2 separate regions of the Homo sapiens genome follow, and region 1 is linked to region 2. Evidence: fine-mapped expression QTL. Tissue or cell type: whole blood. Region 2 holds a variant in brackets; the other region holds the start of a gene. All regions are shown on one strand. Distances are between the middles of the regions.

Region 1 (7,828 bases), 91 kb after region 2:
TTCCGTGTGTTAGGCCAGCGTGGTAACTACTACACCACAGAAACCCTTTGCATTGCAGGCTTTTTATGTTTTGCGATGAGTATTAAATACTTGTTTTTACAATTTTTTTTAGTTGACAAATAAAAATTGTATATATTTATGATGTAAAAAAAAAGTTTAACTCTCTTTTTTTTAAAGGGAACATCTACAAATCTATGAAATCTTCCCAATTAAAGTAACGATACTTAAAACCCTATCTGAAAACAAATCTGAAAAAGAAAGGTAGACTTGAGAATCATCAAAATAAAGAATAAAAAGGAAACAAGTAAACCACATGGTTTAAAAAGAAAGAAAGGCTGGGCACAGTGGCTCACGCCTGTAATCCCAGCATTTTGTGAGGCCGATGTGGGTGGATCACTTGAGGTCAGGAGTTCAAGACCAGCCTGGCCAACATGGTGAAATCCATCTCTACGAAAAATACAAAAATTAGCCAGGCATGGTGGCACACACCTGTAGTCCCAGCTACTTGGGAAGCTGAGGCAGGAGAATTGCTTGAGCCCGGGAGGCGAAGGTTGCAGTGAGCCGAGATCACTCCACTGCACTCCAGCCTGGGCGACAGAGCAAGATTCCGTCTCAAAAAAAAAAAAAAATAAAAATAAAAAAAGGACGATGAGCTATAAAGAGTGCATTATAATTCAAAACAAAGCTTTACAAACATGAAAACCTGCCAAAGGAGATGTCCAAGAGCCAACATCCAGATGGGAAGTATTGAACAAAAACTTGTTTTATATACTAAGGTGAGCATGTGGAAATGTTTTTCCATTTTATAAAAACGTTACGGCCTAATGTTGCAACAAAGTCGAACTGCAAACATCACAAAGAAACCTCAGAGCAATGTCTGAGTTCTGGAAGGAAATAAATTGGAACATACCCTTATTATCCTGGCAGCCTCCAAAAGGATTCGGCAACGCTCCATGCCAGATTTTTGACTCCATATTTTAAAAGCAGCCTTTGCATTTTGAACAGCCAAATTTACTTCCTTTTCTCCTGAACATGTGAAAGTAGCTATCACTCGGCCTATAAAGAGCGGAAACATCAGTTTTAACTCAAATTGTTGCCACATATTTAAATAAAATATTATCTATCAATATTCTCTTAGTAGTAGTCTTTTTTTTTTTTTTTTTTTTTTTCTTGAGATGGAGTCTTGCTCTGTCACCCAGGCTGGAGTGCAGTGGCGCGATCTCGGCTCACTGCAACCTCTGCCTCCTGAGTTCAAGCGATTCCCCTGCCTCAGCCTCCTGAGTAGCTGGGACTACCAGTGCACGCCACTACGCCCAGCTAATTTTTTGTATTTTTTAGTAGAGACCGGGTTTCACCATGTTGACCAGGATGGTCTTGATCTCCTGACCTTGTGACCCACCCGCCTCAGCCTCCCGAAGTGCCGGAATTACAGGCGTGGGCTACCGTAACTTCTTGTTTTTATGTATGGTTTGATTTAGTGACCATCTCTATACTAGCAGGTTTTTTTGTTTTGTTTTTTTGTTTTTTAAGACGGAGTCTCGCTCTTGTTACCCAGGCTGGAGTGCAATGGCACGATCTTGACTCACTGCAACTTTTGCCTCCTGGGTTCCAGCAATTCTCCTGCCTCAGCCTCCCGAGTAGCTGGGATTACAGGCGCCTGCCACCACACACAGCTAATTTTTGTATTTTTAGTAGAGACGGGATTTCATCATGTTGGCCAGGCTGGTCTTACATTCCTGACCTCAAGTGATTCACCCACCTCTGCCTCCCCAAGTGCTGGGATTACAGCCATGAGCCACCACACCCGGCCTAGCAGTTCTTAACTGTATTTTGCGGTCATTGACATTAGGAGTCTGATAAAAGTTGCAGACCTCTCTCCAGAAAAATCTACTTAAACATATAACAGAATTACAGGAATGTCATGTCCCCTGCCCTAAACTCATCAAGGATTTAGAGTTAAGAACCCCTGCCCTCTACTATTTTACAGTTGAGTTTACTAACATTAACTTCTGATTAAGTTTTGCAACACTCCTAAACATTATCTCAGAATCTCAGGGGTCTTGTAAAATGAAAGTCAAAAGTAATCAGTCTATTGGGTTATAAACTCTGACTGTAAATCCCTTGTCTATATTCTATGTAGGTTATATCATACTACTTGATACTTGATAAATATAGTTAATAAGCAGTAATATCAGGATAAGGCAACCCTAAAGGAACATTTTTTTTTTCTCAAAAATTCCCAGATTTCCTTTTCTTATTCCACCTTTATTCCCTCTCCCTATTCTGGTGCAAATTATGAAACAATCAGTTTTTCTAGGCCCATAGCCCAAGGACTGTACTGCCTCTACCAACAAGAATTCTTTAAGTTTGCCAACTCAGCAAATCCTCTTCACAAGAACTCCTGGGACTCTTTCCAGGGAGATTTCACAAATCTGCAATTTCTGTTACAAACTTGAATAGCCAGCTGGTAAAGGCGGTGGCTGAGGATCACACACACTGTAGGCAATTAAAGCAAAGAGCAATTTTTCTTTCTTTTGTATCAGGATTAAGTCGGGGTAGAGAAGCTGTTTCCTCCTATATAAAGAAGAGATGTGATAATGCCTTCTGGCTCTGCCAAGTCACTGCTCTGTGGTTTAGTGTGGATGGTCAAATACTAAATTCTCCAGTCCCCTGCAAATCAGTTTTATTGCTCTGGCTACATTTTACACAAAATATTTACATTTTTCTCCCCACATATATTCCATAAAACCCAGCAAAATAAACACAACACAAAACCAAAACAAAAAGCCCCTTCTTCCTTATCTCTGTGACCTTCAGAGTTCCCAGAGTAAATCCAGTGCCTAGCACAGTGCTTAGCACACATTAAGCACTGGATTAAAAAGTTTTATTTCAGCAAGATGAATAAATTGTGGAGAGCTCACGTAGACCATGGTGACTATGGTTACCAATACTGCATCATATACTTGAAATTTGCTAAAAGAATAGATCTTAAATATTTCACTATCCAAAAAAAGCCATTAACTATGCAGAAGCAATGGATAATTAGATTGACCGTGGTAACCATTTTGCAAGGTATACATACATTACAACACGTTTTACACCTTAAGTATATACAATTTTTATTTGTTAATTATACTTCAATAAAGCTGGGGAAGAAAGTACTGAATAAAGGTGGGGTTTTTTCCTTTCCCAATTCTGATTAATGTGCAGAAATATTTTAATATTAGAATGTGGAGACAAAGTCCTCATTCGTAGTCATTAGAAACTATCTGTGAGCGTTCCTTCATTCCCAGCACAAATGATTATCTTCCCCACAACCCCGCCCCGTTCTTTTAGAATTCCTCTCCTATGCACACATTTGAAGACAATAATACATCAGTCCTGGTTTTAAAAGGGGGAACAGTTGGCTGGGCTTGGTGGCTCACGGCTGTAATCCCAGCACTTTGGGAGGCTGAGGCGGGAGGATCACCTAAGCTCAGGAGTTCGAGACCAGCCTGAGTAACATGCTGAAAACCCGTCTCTACTAAAAATACAAAAATTAGCCGGACATGGTGGTGGGAGCCTGTAATCCCAGCTACCAGGGAGGCTGAGGCGGGAGAAGCACTTGAGCCCGTAAGGTAGAGGGCGCAGTGAGCTCTGAGATGGTGCCCCTGCACTCCAGCCTGGGCGACAGAGTGAGACCCTGTCTCAAAACAAACAAAAAACAAACAAACAAACAAAACAAACAAAAAAGGAAGTTAACAGAGGCACGACTTCCCCCACCAGTACTTTGCGAACTCTGTTCTGGCCCGGGTAAAACAACTCACGATCCTACCACGCAACTCATCAGCTTTGCTTTTCCTCCCTACCCATCCCTGCCCGGAGGCACTCGCGTTGCCCCAGAATCGCTAGTTGCCTACACACACAACCTTAGACTCTCCACTGTCACTGTCTTGTGCTCAAGTCAACGCTGCAGAACACAGGAAACGGGGGCTGGCCGGGAAATCCGCGCATCCGGCCCCAGGGCGCCCCAGCCTCCCCGGCTCGTTGCAGTTACCGGTTGCTGGCTCGAAAGCTTTCTCGGTACCGGAGGCGTCCGCCGGCTCCACGCGGGCCCCGCCGCGGTAATTGAGCGGCTGCGACACGACGAAGGTGCCAGTGCTCATGGCGGCGACAGGAGAGGGCCGAAGACTGCGAAGAAGCGGGGAGAGCGCGGCCAGGCCTGCTCGGAGAAACATGAGTGGCGGACGCAGCTCCGCGGCAGAGGCTGACGGGCCGCGGGAGGGGCGGGGCCGCGGGAGGGGCGGGGCCGCGGGATCGGTTCTAGGAGATTTTAGGGGCAGTCACTCGATTCCTCTGCGGTCCAGGCCAGGCCCTCCCCTCGCCAGGAGGGTGGAGCAAGACACCACATTCTCCCCACCACCCCGCCATACCCCACACAGTCTCCAGGCGGGAAGAGGACTTCCTTCTTCGTGATCAATATTTGCGTAGCACTTTGCAAGTGTTTTCGGGTTCATCATTGCATGTAAGCATCCTAGGATCCCATTCTTAATCCTATCGCCTGAAGAAGGCAGAGGATTGGAGTGCCAAGAGTCTTTGGTGGTTACTTCACTGCTAAACCACCGTTTCTGTAATTGTATAATGCTTTTTAAAGGGTGACAGTAAAAAGCAAGGGGACTGTGAACGAGATAGATGATATTGTGATCTGAAACTGCTTTTTAAATTCTTAAAGAGAGACTGGGCGCTGTGGCTCTCACCAAGGCTGGAGGATCGCTTGAGCCCAGGAGTTTGCGGGCAACAGAGAGAGATCCCGTGTCTATAAAAAAATAAAATAAAAATAATAAAAATTGGGCCGGGCGCGGTGGCTCACGCCTGTAATCCTAGCACTTTGGGAGGCCAAGGCGGGCAGATCACCTGAGGTCAGGAGTTCGAGACCAGCCTGACCAAAATGGTAAAACCCCGTCTCTACTAAAAATACAAAAATTAGCTGGGTGTGGTGGCGGGCGCCTGTAATCCCAGCTACTTGGGAGGCTGAGGTGGGAAAATCGCTTGAACCCGGGAGACGGGTTGCAGTGAGCCGAGACTATGCCATTGCACTCCAGTCTGGGTGACAAGAGTGAAACTCAGAAAAAAAAAAAATTATCCAGGTGTGGTGGCACACGCCTGTGGCCCCAGGTACTTGGGCGGCTAAGGTGGGAGGATCCCCTGAGCCCCGGGGGTCCAAGCTTGCAGTGAGCTATAATCGTGCCACTGCACTCAGGCCTGGGCAACAGAGCGAGACCCTGTCTCAAAATAAATAAATTCTGAAGGAGCAATGTAAATGCTATTAATGACAAATATTGATAGAAACAGAAGCCTAACATACAGAATACGAAGAGCAAAGGCCACAGGAAAAAGTGTCAGGAAACAAAATGCCTTCTGTAAGACAAAGCAGCCACCCAGAGGCACTCACAGGTCTGTCAGCTGAGGGATCTTGCACAAAGGTTCATTCTTCTCACCAAACTTCCATGCACCTCCAGTAGAGACTTTGACAAACAGAAAGTAATTGGCAATTTGGACATTTCTTTTAGGATTGTTTCTCTTCTGGGGGCTGCTGTCTTTCTCAATGTTTTTTCCTTTACCTGCCAGCTCACCAGCGCAATATTAGGGAGTGTGGTTTTCAGGTTTAGAGTATATATAATGTATTCTGATCAAGTTTTCTGGCACTCTATACCAGTTTGTTCACTTTTTCAGTGCTACTGAGATGTGTAGGTCTTGGTCCTCAGATGGAAACAGCAGTGCCCAAACTCAGAATACCTGAGGCCACACTCACATATTATTTTATTATTGTCCATTGCAAACAGAATTGAAACATATCAGGAGTTGGTGACGAGCAGCACTATAGATTTCCAAGATCACTGAATGGTCATTTAGGTACAGAAACTATACGTCTCAAATTTTATGGGACAATTTCTATTTAAAAGATTCTGTCCCCAACCAATGCATTTTGACTTGTCACATCATAATTCCTGATGTTTGTTTTGGAAATGTGGTCGTGATGTCTATTGAATTAATTCATAGATGATAAGACTGACAAACCTCTGGCCAGGCACAGGACTCACACCTGTAATCTCAACACTTTGGGAGACCGTGGCAGGAGGATCGCTTGAGGCCAGGAGTTCAAGACCAGCCTGGGCAACATAGTGAGACTCTGTCTCTACAAAATATTTTTAAAAATTAGCCGAGCATGGTGGCACAAGCGTGTAGTCCTGACTACTCAAGAGACTGAGGTGGAGGATTGCTTGAGGCCAGGAGTTCAAGACTGGAGTGAGCGATCATGGCACCACTGCTCCAGCCTGGGCAACAGAGTAAGACCCTTCCCCAAAGAAAACAGATCTCCTCCAAAATATCTACCTTTTAAATATCTAGCTGTTCCTCTTACCTATCTGTGCTTTTATTATTAAATTATTATTTTTAACTTTTAGGTTCAGGGGTACATGTAAAGATTTGTTACATAGGTAAACTTGTGTCATGGGGGTGTGTTGTATAGATTATTTCATTACCCAGGTATTAAGCCTAGTACCCATGAGTTATTTTTCCTGATCCTCTCCCTCCTTCCACCCTTATTATTAGATTATTAATGTATTATTTTTCATTAGCAAAATCCAACATGTAGAAAGAGCTTTATAGGTTACAGAGCCCTTTCACATTTACTTTCTCACATGAAGCTCATAATAACCCTACAAAAGAAAAGGAAACTAACAGAGATTGAGCTAGGAGGTAGTATGTGGCACTTTGTCAAATATCTCAGTGACAATCATGCAAGATAGGTTTTATCATCCCCATTGTACAGATGAGGAAACTAATAGAAAGGTCGTAGAGCTTCCCCATAAAGGAGCTAAGGCTGGAGTCCAGCTCTGTGCAAGTCCAAAGTAAATTTCTTCTTACTACACCAGGTCGAGATGTTGACCCCATGAAGGTTGCTATCAAAATTCACTCTTATGTTGGTGGATATTTATCAGAAACCCAGAAATCTGGTTCTAGGGAGATTTAAAGGACATGTAAACTTCTTAGGATATTTGTCAGCACTACCCAGTAAGCAGCCCAGAAGTCACAGAGGATGCTGGCCAGTTTACAAGTTCAGGGTGAAATTCAAAGGGACAAAGATGCCACAAGGAGCAGAAGGAATGCCAAAAGAGAAACACCTCTTAGATGGGTGTGTGTTGGAGGGCAGATTTGGGGGTAAAAAGAGATAGAAAAGGAGTGGAATCATTGCTAAAGGGGTAGAAGATCCAAGGAGAAACTGCCTGCCTCACAACTTGCTTAAAGCCAAACTTGGGTGCCACTAAAGCCCCCTCCTTTTCCACATTTCCTTCCCCAGACAACCAGAGGAGGAAAAGAAAAGCAACTGGATCCCCTTCTGCCACCTCCAGGTCTCCTAAAGGAAGAAGTCCTTGGGAACCCATACTGTGTGATCCAGGGTCCTTCACTGGCCTCTCCCTCAGGTCATCCAGTTGTCAATTTGTTGCTTTGGCTTAGTTTCACCATTAGCAGTACTCTTCTTGGACACAACCTCCAGAGTAAAAGCAAATGCCGGATGCGGTGGCTCACACCTGTAATCCCAGCACTTTGGGAGGCGGAGGTGGGTGGATTGCCTGAGCTCAGGAGTTCCAGACCAGCCTGGACAACATGGTGAGACCCCTGTCTCTACTAAAAATACAAAAAAAAAAAAAAAAAAAAGCCAAGTGTGGTGGCGCACACCTCTAGTCCCAGCTGCTGGGGGGTTGAAGCGCGAGGATCGCTTGAACCTGGAGGCAGAGGCTGCAGTGAGCCAAGATTGCAACATTGCACTCCAGCCTGGGCGACAGAG
Region 2 (7,828 bases):
GCCTCAGCCAAAGACATGGCTAGTTTAGAGTGGGAAGGGCTCAGCAACTTCCCAAAGCACAGGGTCCCAGCAGAAAGACTACCCTGTGATCCTTCCCTCAGGAGTGGCTTCCTTCCAGTGCCCCTATTACCTCCTCTTAGAGCCCGGAGACACTGCAAATGTCAGTGTCCAGGATGCTCTGGGTAGAAGTTAATGATTACTTGAGTCAGCTCTTTCTGCAAACCCTGATGCCTGTGCCTGGTCACTCCGAATCTGGAAGAGACACTGCATAATCTTTGGAAATTCACTGCAGTTATTTTCTTCATCTCCCAATAATCAACCTCAACAACATCCCTCAGTCCTAGGAACTTCCTAGATGGAGTTTGGTCTCTAGACTAGCTATGGGATATCATAACAGCTATGAAGGAATAGAATCATTTTGTGACTTTAACCTATTAGCCCTCTAGTACTGGCCTTAAACAGAGAGACAGGTTTAAAAAACAAAGCCCATGACTCAAGTTAAGGACTCCAGAGCCTGGAAACTCTCTCTCAGGATTGATACCTCTGTTGTTTTTTCAGGACTTAATGTTAGGAACATGGGTTCTCTATATTGGGGGAGTATTATGGAATGAATTGTGTCTCCACAAAATTCATGTGCTGAAGTCCTAACCTCAGAATGTGATTGTATTTGGAATGAGGGCCTTTAAAAGATAGTTAAGGTAAAATGAGGTCATATGGATGGGCCCTAATCCAATATGACTGGTGTCTTTTAAGGAGAAGAGATTAGGACACAGATATACCAAAGGTAGATCATGTAAAGATACCAGAAGAGAATGGCCATCTACAAGCCAAAAAAAAAGCGGTCTTCAAAGAAACCAACCCTGCCAACACCTTAATCTCAGACTTCAGCCTCCAGAATTATGAGAAAATTAATTTCTGTTGTTTAAGCCACCCAGCTGGTGTACTTTGCTATGTAATTCCAGAAAACTAATATAGGGAGAGTTATTAAGACATGTCTCATATTTCTGCCCTTTCCTATTGCCTCCAACCAGATTGTATCTGCTTCCCTGTGTCTACTTGCTGGCTTGGAACTTATTAAGATTGGATCCTTCCTGGAAGAAATTTGCTGATGGAGGCAGAAGGACACTCAGAATTGAAACTGTGTGAGCTTTGGTGCCTGGGATCCTTACTTGCTGTTGCCCATACTTAATTCAAATACTCAATGGATATTTATTATGTCCTAGGGCTATAAGAACATAAGAAAAAGACCCCTGAAACTAGGAAAGAAAGCTTCAAAGAGATGGTCATTTAGACATTTTTAAAGAATGAGAGGAATTGTTGGAGAAGATTGGCATGGGAGAAGAGAATTGAAGCAGAGGGAACAGCATGTACAAAGGTACAAAGATGTGAAACAGAATGACCCGCTGGAGGAACTACATCCTACTGACTAGAATATAGTGTCCATGTGGGCCTGTGGCACAAGGAGAGATAGGAACCCAAACCCGGTTGGAAAATACGTGGGCCTGTGGCACAAGGAGAGAGAGGAACCCAAACCCGGTTGGAAAATACAATCTGGGAGGCAGCTGCGGGGTGTGGAGGAGCCTCAGGTTATTCACTATCTACAGCATGCCCAGGTAGAGTGGTTTCAGCAGTCAGAGAGTGCCCTCAGGCAAAGAATAGCAGCTGCTGACAGCTGGAAATTGTAATCCATGGTAATGGTTGCAGCTGAGATGTGGGTGGGTACCCCCAGCATCTCCTAGATCAACCATACATTTGTGTGAGCCATTTGGTTTTCTCTAGTAGGTCTTGATTTAAGTTCCTGAACTCTGCCCACCACCACCAGCAGCCATGACTTCTTGGCAAGACTCCAAACCCCTCCCTACCTTCACTCTTTAGGTAAGTTGTTTAAAGATGCTATGCCTCCTTGGGAATTTCATTGATTTCCATGTTCCATTCTGCCTGTTCAGCCTCTGCCAACCACTGTCCTGGACTCTCTGGCAGACTGTGCCTTCCTGGTTCTTGTTGGTTACTGGTTGCTTACTGGTTGCAGCCCTATACCTGTTCTTGAACCCCAACTATTGACCCTGTCCTAGGTTTAGTTTACTAACATGGTCTAAATTCTAGTACAGTGATAACTTGAAGAAGCTCAGGCCTAACTTACTAACCATAATATCTTACCCTATTGGAACTGAGCTTTTCCCAAAGAGTACCTCCAGTGTCTTCGCTCCATCAGGATCAGTCAGTCCTACCCTCACCCAACTATCTATAGCCCTAAAGGACCACTGATCATGGCAAGTTAAGGCAATTATCAATAAGGAAGAACAATGATAAAGTATTAGAAGAAGTTAAGTTAAAACCTTGTGTTGCTGAATTTGAAATAGAGAAGTATCAATATTAACTTGTAAGGTATTTTATCTTTTAAAAATTCCCTTGCTCTGTCCACTGAAAAGCCAAGAAATAATGATCAACCTAGTATCAATGAATATCTCTAGAGCCAATATTGTGAATCTGAAATCTATTTTCCATTAAAAGAAATCATGGCTGATTCTAGATCTAGGGCAGGAAATGTACAAGATGAGTCTGGAACATCTTATAATAGAAAGGAAGGAAGGAAGCTACACATGATCATTAGGTGTAGGGTCCAGCCCTACAGGGCTTAGCAGGTGTTCTCCCCGTGTGCAAAGATGAGAGATTGTAAGAAATAAAGACACAAGACAAAGAGATAAAGAGAAAACAGCTGGGCCCGGGGGACCACTACCACCAAGACACAGAGACCGGTAGTGGCCCTTCCCTTTTAGGTAGCCGAAGCAAAGAGGGAAGGCAGTATATGTCAGCGTTTTCTTCCATGCACTTATAAGAAAGATCAAAGACTTTAAGACTTTCACTATTTCTTCTACCGCTATCTACTATGAACTTCAAAGAGGAACCAGGAGTATGGGAGGAACATGAAAGCGGACAAGAAGCGTGACCATTGAAGCACAGCACCACAGGGAGGGGTTTAGTCCTCCGGATGACTGTGGGCAGGCCTGGATAATATCCAGCCTCCCACAAGAAGCTGGTGGAGCAGAGTGTTCCCTGACTCCTCCAAGGAAAGGGAGATTCCCTTTCGCGGTCTGCTAAGTAACGGGCGCCTTCCCAGGCACTGGCATTACCGCTTGACCAAGGAGCCCTCAAGCAGCCCTTATGCGGGCGTGACAGAGGGCTCACCTCTTGCCTTCTAGGTCACTTCTCACAATGTCCCTTCAGTACCTGACCCTATACCTGCCGGTTATTCCTAGGTTATATTAGTAATGCAACAAAGAGTAATATTAAAAGCTAATGATTAATAACATTTATACCAATGATTGATAATTGTCCACGATCATCTCTATATCTAATTTGTATTTTTTTATTCCAACTATTTTCTTTATTATACTGCTACAGCTTGTGCCTTTGGTCTCCTGCCTCGGCACCTGGGTAATCCTTCACCCACAATTAGGGCCATGTTAAAGGAATTCAGGAGTCACTTATTAGCAAAGACAGAATAATTGGAGCACAAGCATCAAGAAGAATAAAAACTGAAATCATTTGAAATGCACCAAATTATGTTTGAATCCATGGGTTTAAAATGTTACCTTTTTAAAAAACTCTATTTGATCACCTGTGGAGTATGATTAGGAAGCAACTTAACTATTTTGAGAACTTTTAAATAAAGGGAAAGAATCAGACACTTGTTCTGCCTTTCGTATATGAACTGAATTATTAGGTAGCCAAATAGTCAGGGGAGGGGTCTTTTAATAGACATTAAAGCTAATAAATTAAGAAACAGTGATTGAATTCAAATATCATTTGAAACCCTTAATATGTTAATAGAACTAGGCAATTAGCATCAATGGCTGCTAACATACACACACACACACACACACATACCCACACACACACATCACACACACATACATGACATTATGTGCTATTTGGTAAAAGGACACAACACAGTATCATCTCCAAAGTAGTCTTGCCAAAAAAAATCAAACCTATCTAATCAAATCTCTAAATCCAACTACTAATTTACAGAAAATACAAGTGAGAGGGAACATGCTAAACTACACCATACAATGTAATTAACAAAATTCATACTGTAGGAATCTATTAATGAAGCAATTTAGTTTATTCAACAAATAAAGTGCAAGGTGAAAGAAGAATATGGCGAATTATAGATTAAAAGAGATTTAAAAGACATCATTTTTTAAACTGATAAAACTTAACTATAGTGTTTAGGGATGCACCCTGGAGTGATAAAGCATTTTTAAAAAGCAAAGAAGCCTAGTGCATTACAAGAATTACTAAAGGACTGGAAGAGTCTGGGTTTTTATTTTGTAATATTTCTAAAACTGAGTCCCTTGAATGCAAATCCCCCCCAAAAAAAATAGAAGGGATTTTTTTTTTTTTTTTTTAGAAGGAGTTTTGCTCTTGTTGCCCAGGCTGGAGTCCAATGGCACGATCTTAACTCACTGCAACCTCTGCCTCCCGGGTTCAAGTGATTCTCTTGCCTCAGCCTCCCAAGTAGCTGGGATTACAGGCACCTGCCACCATCCCAGACTAATTTTTTATATTTTTAGTAGAGTAGCTGGGATTACAGGCACCCGCCACCACACCCAGCTAATTTATATTTTTAGTAGAGATGGGGCTTCATCATGTTGGCCAGGCTGGTCTCGAACTCCTGACCTTCAGGTGATCCACCCATCTAGGCCTCCCAAAGTGCTGAGATTACAGGCATGAGCCACTATGCCCAGCCAGAAGAGATCTTGACAG[A/C]AGAGATTTTAACAATGACAACACAAGCAAATTTCAACGTTTATAATATGGCCTAGTAATTTGTTTTTCAAATTTAATTTAAAGTGATCATTGTAAAATATGCCTCTTATATCATGACTCAGTATACATGTTTGTAGTCTAGCTCAGGATTTTCCAAACTATGGGTCTAAAATAAATTTGGTGGGTTGTTATCAGCATTAAAAAATATCAAATAGGCAGCTTAGGAGGCTGAGGTGGACAGATCGCTTTGAGTTCAGGAGTTCAAGACCAGCCTGGGCAACATAGCAAAACCCCATCTCTACAAAAAATATAAAAATTATCCAGGCCTAGTGGTTTATGCCTATACTCCTAGCTACTCGAGAGGCTGAGGCTGGAAGATTGGTTGAGCCCAGGAAGGAGAGGTTGTAGTGAGAGGTTGCACGCCTGCCTGTGTGACAGAGTGAGATCCTGTTTCAAAAAATAAAATCAAATACGATGAATAAGTACTGGAGACTCAATGAATAGCGTAGTGACTATAGTTAATAACAATGTATTGCATACTTGAACTGTGCTAGGTGAGTATATCTCAAGTGTCCTCACCACAAAAAAGAAATGGTAACTGTGTGAGGAGAGGGATATGTTAATCGGCTTGATTGTGGGAGTCATTTCACAATACATACATACATACAACATCACATCATACAGCCTAAATATATGCAATTTTAAATTGTCAATCCGACCCTTCCAGTTCATAAAGCTGAAAAAAAATCAAGTCAGAAAGAACTGAAGAGAAAATTGAGAGCCAGGCAGGCATTGTGGCCCAAGCCAGCACTTCAGGACGCTGAGTTGGGAGGATCGCTTGAGCCCAGGAGTTTGAGACCACCCTGGGCAACATAATGAGACCTCCTCTCTATAAAAAAGTAAATAAAACAAAATTAGCTGGGTGTGGTGGTGCACACCTGTAGTCCCACCTACTCAGGAGGCTGAGGTGGGAGGATCACCTGAGTCCAAGGAGGTCGAGTCTGCAGTGAGCCAAGAATGCACCACTGCACTCCAGTCTGGGCAACAGAGCAAGACCCTGTCTCAAAAAATAAAAAATAATCACGCCTGTAGTTCCAGCTACTAGGGAGGCTGAGGTGGGAGGATTGCTTGAGCCCAAGAGGTCAAGGCTGCAGTGAGCCGTGTTTGCACCATTGCACTCCAACCTGGACAAGATTGAGATCCTGTCTCAAAAAATAAAAATAAACATAAAAATATAAAAATATGGCCAGGTTTATGCCTGTAATCCCAGCACTTTGGGAGGCCGAGAGAGGCAGATCCCTGGCACCCAGAAGTTTGAGACCCCATATCAAAATTAGCAAGGCGTGATGGTGCCTTTCTGTAGTCCCAGCTATTTGGGAAGCTGAGGTGGGAGGATTCCTTGATCCTGGGAGGTCGAGGTTACAGTGAACCAAGATCACACCACTGCATTCCAGCCTGGGTGATGGCATGAGACCCTGTCTCAAAAAAAAAAAAAAAGAAAAGGAAAAAAAATATATATATATATATATAATAACAGTAAAAAATAAAGAAAATTGAGTCCATCTCATGTGATTAAAGAAAGTATTATTTTTTGGAAAAATGGAAGTATTATTATTTTAAGTAATTATTATTTAAAGGAAGTATTATTTCCAATGTATATATGAATGTGTGAGTTTTTATGAATGTATATACTGGCTTGCAACGTGAAATCAATTTCTTACTGTGATACAATGCCCGCCCTCCATTTGGAAAACATAGCCCTCACTGATTTCACGAATTGAGCTTCATTAGTCTTGATTACATATATGACTGCGAAGTTGGGACCTGGAGCAAGAAACAGCCTGGATTGCCTTCAGAGCAGGGTGGACCTGCCACACTGCAGACCGCTCTTCTTGAAACACAGCCAGTTGTACCTTTCCCAGCTTGTCTACATTGCAACCTCTGGTGTAAAAAATGTTAGTTATGAAAACTAGATACTGTCGCTGGGTGAGAAGAGTTTCAAATTTTAAAGTCTGTTCTTAGAAGGGGCGTCCCGTGGACCTTCAATATACACGTGAAAATAGTGTGAGCTCCTTTCATCTAGCTGGCTTTTCACCTCAGGACGTGTTTGTACCGGAAGATGCGTGTTTTCCTCGGGAGTCCTGCAAGGCACCCAGACTCTTTTTTAATTCAGCTCTCCCTTGGTGCTGTCGTTCTGAAGTCCTCAAACTGACATGTCAGAAAATGTTTTTGGTAATTCTTGGCTATATTTTTAAATTTATATTTATGGGAGGTAATAGAGGCTTAGAATTCAAGACATACAAAAGTGGGAAGCTTCCTCTTTCACTCCTGTCTTTGCACCACTCAGTTTCCTCTCCAGAGACAATAAACATTACTAGTTTTTTGTTTGGTTGGTTTTTGTTTTGTTTTGTTCAGATGACAAATTCTAAGTGCCAACCACCACCGTAATTTGAAGCAGAGCCTGGAAACAAGGTTCCTGAAAACTGGTTTTGCAACCTTTGCACTTTCACCACCTGAAGGATGAAAATTTTAGAGAGAGAGTTGGAGATGCATAGATTAGGAGGGAGCTGCTAGAGTGCTTGGAGTCCCACTGCACTCTAAAAGCATCTTTATAGAACATTTAATACTTGTATTGCCCTTATTTGTTTTGTGTATGTGGTTTTCTTGGTTTGCTTGTTTTTTGTTTTTGAGACAGGGTCTTGCTCTGTTGCCCAGGCTAGAGTGCAGTGGTCCAATCTTGGCTCATTGCATCCTCGACCTTCTGGGCTCAGATGATTCTCCTGCCTCAGCCTCCCTCCCGGGTAACTGGGACTATGCCCGTCACACCACCCAACTAATTTTTTTTATTTTTTATTATCATTATTATTTTATTTTTTTTGTAGAGAGGGGGTTTCACCATGTTACTCAGGCTGGTCTCGAACCCCTGGGCTCAAACAATCCTCCCGCCTCAGCCTCCCAAAGTGCTGGGACTACAGGCATGAGCCATGGCACCCAGCCTGTTATTTGTTTACATGTCTTTCTCCTCTCCTAAACTGTAAGCCCCTTGAAGGCGGTGTGG

What was found. PIP is the estimated chance that this variant, and not a neighbour inherited with it, causes the effect.
Region 1: it holds the start of ALDH9A1, and the variant in region 2 is fine-mapped to the expression of ALDH9A1 in whole blood (TOPMed, PIP above 0.99).

Annotation. Positions count from the first base shown.
Region 1 is chr1:165,694,342-165,702,169 of GRCh38, forward strand. It overlaps ALDH9A1 (aldehyde dehydrogenase 9 family member A1), which reads right to left and starts at 4,221. Exons shown (of 11, transcript NM_000696.4): 1 at 4,037-4,221; 2 at 911-1,056. The coding sequence starts at 4,217. It also overlaps the pseudogene CA14P1. RefSeq lists enhancers at 3,957-4,186, 4,030-4,612, 4,477-4,656 and a silencer at 4,217-4,406.
Region 2 is chr1:165,603,814-165,611,641 of GRCh38, forward strand. No RefSeq gene overlaps it. Among named protein-coding and RNA genes, the nearest start is that of MGST3, 24 kb to the right of the region's middle. The variant A/C (reference allele first, on the strand shown) is at 4,771.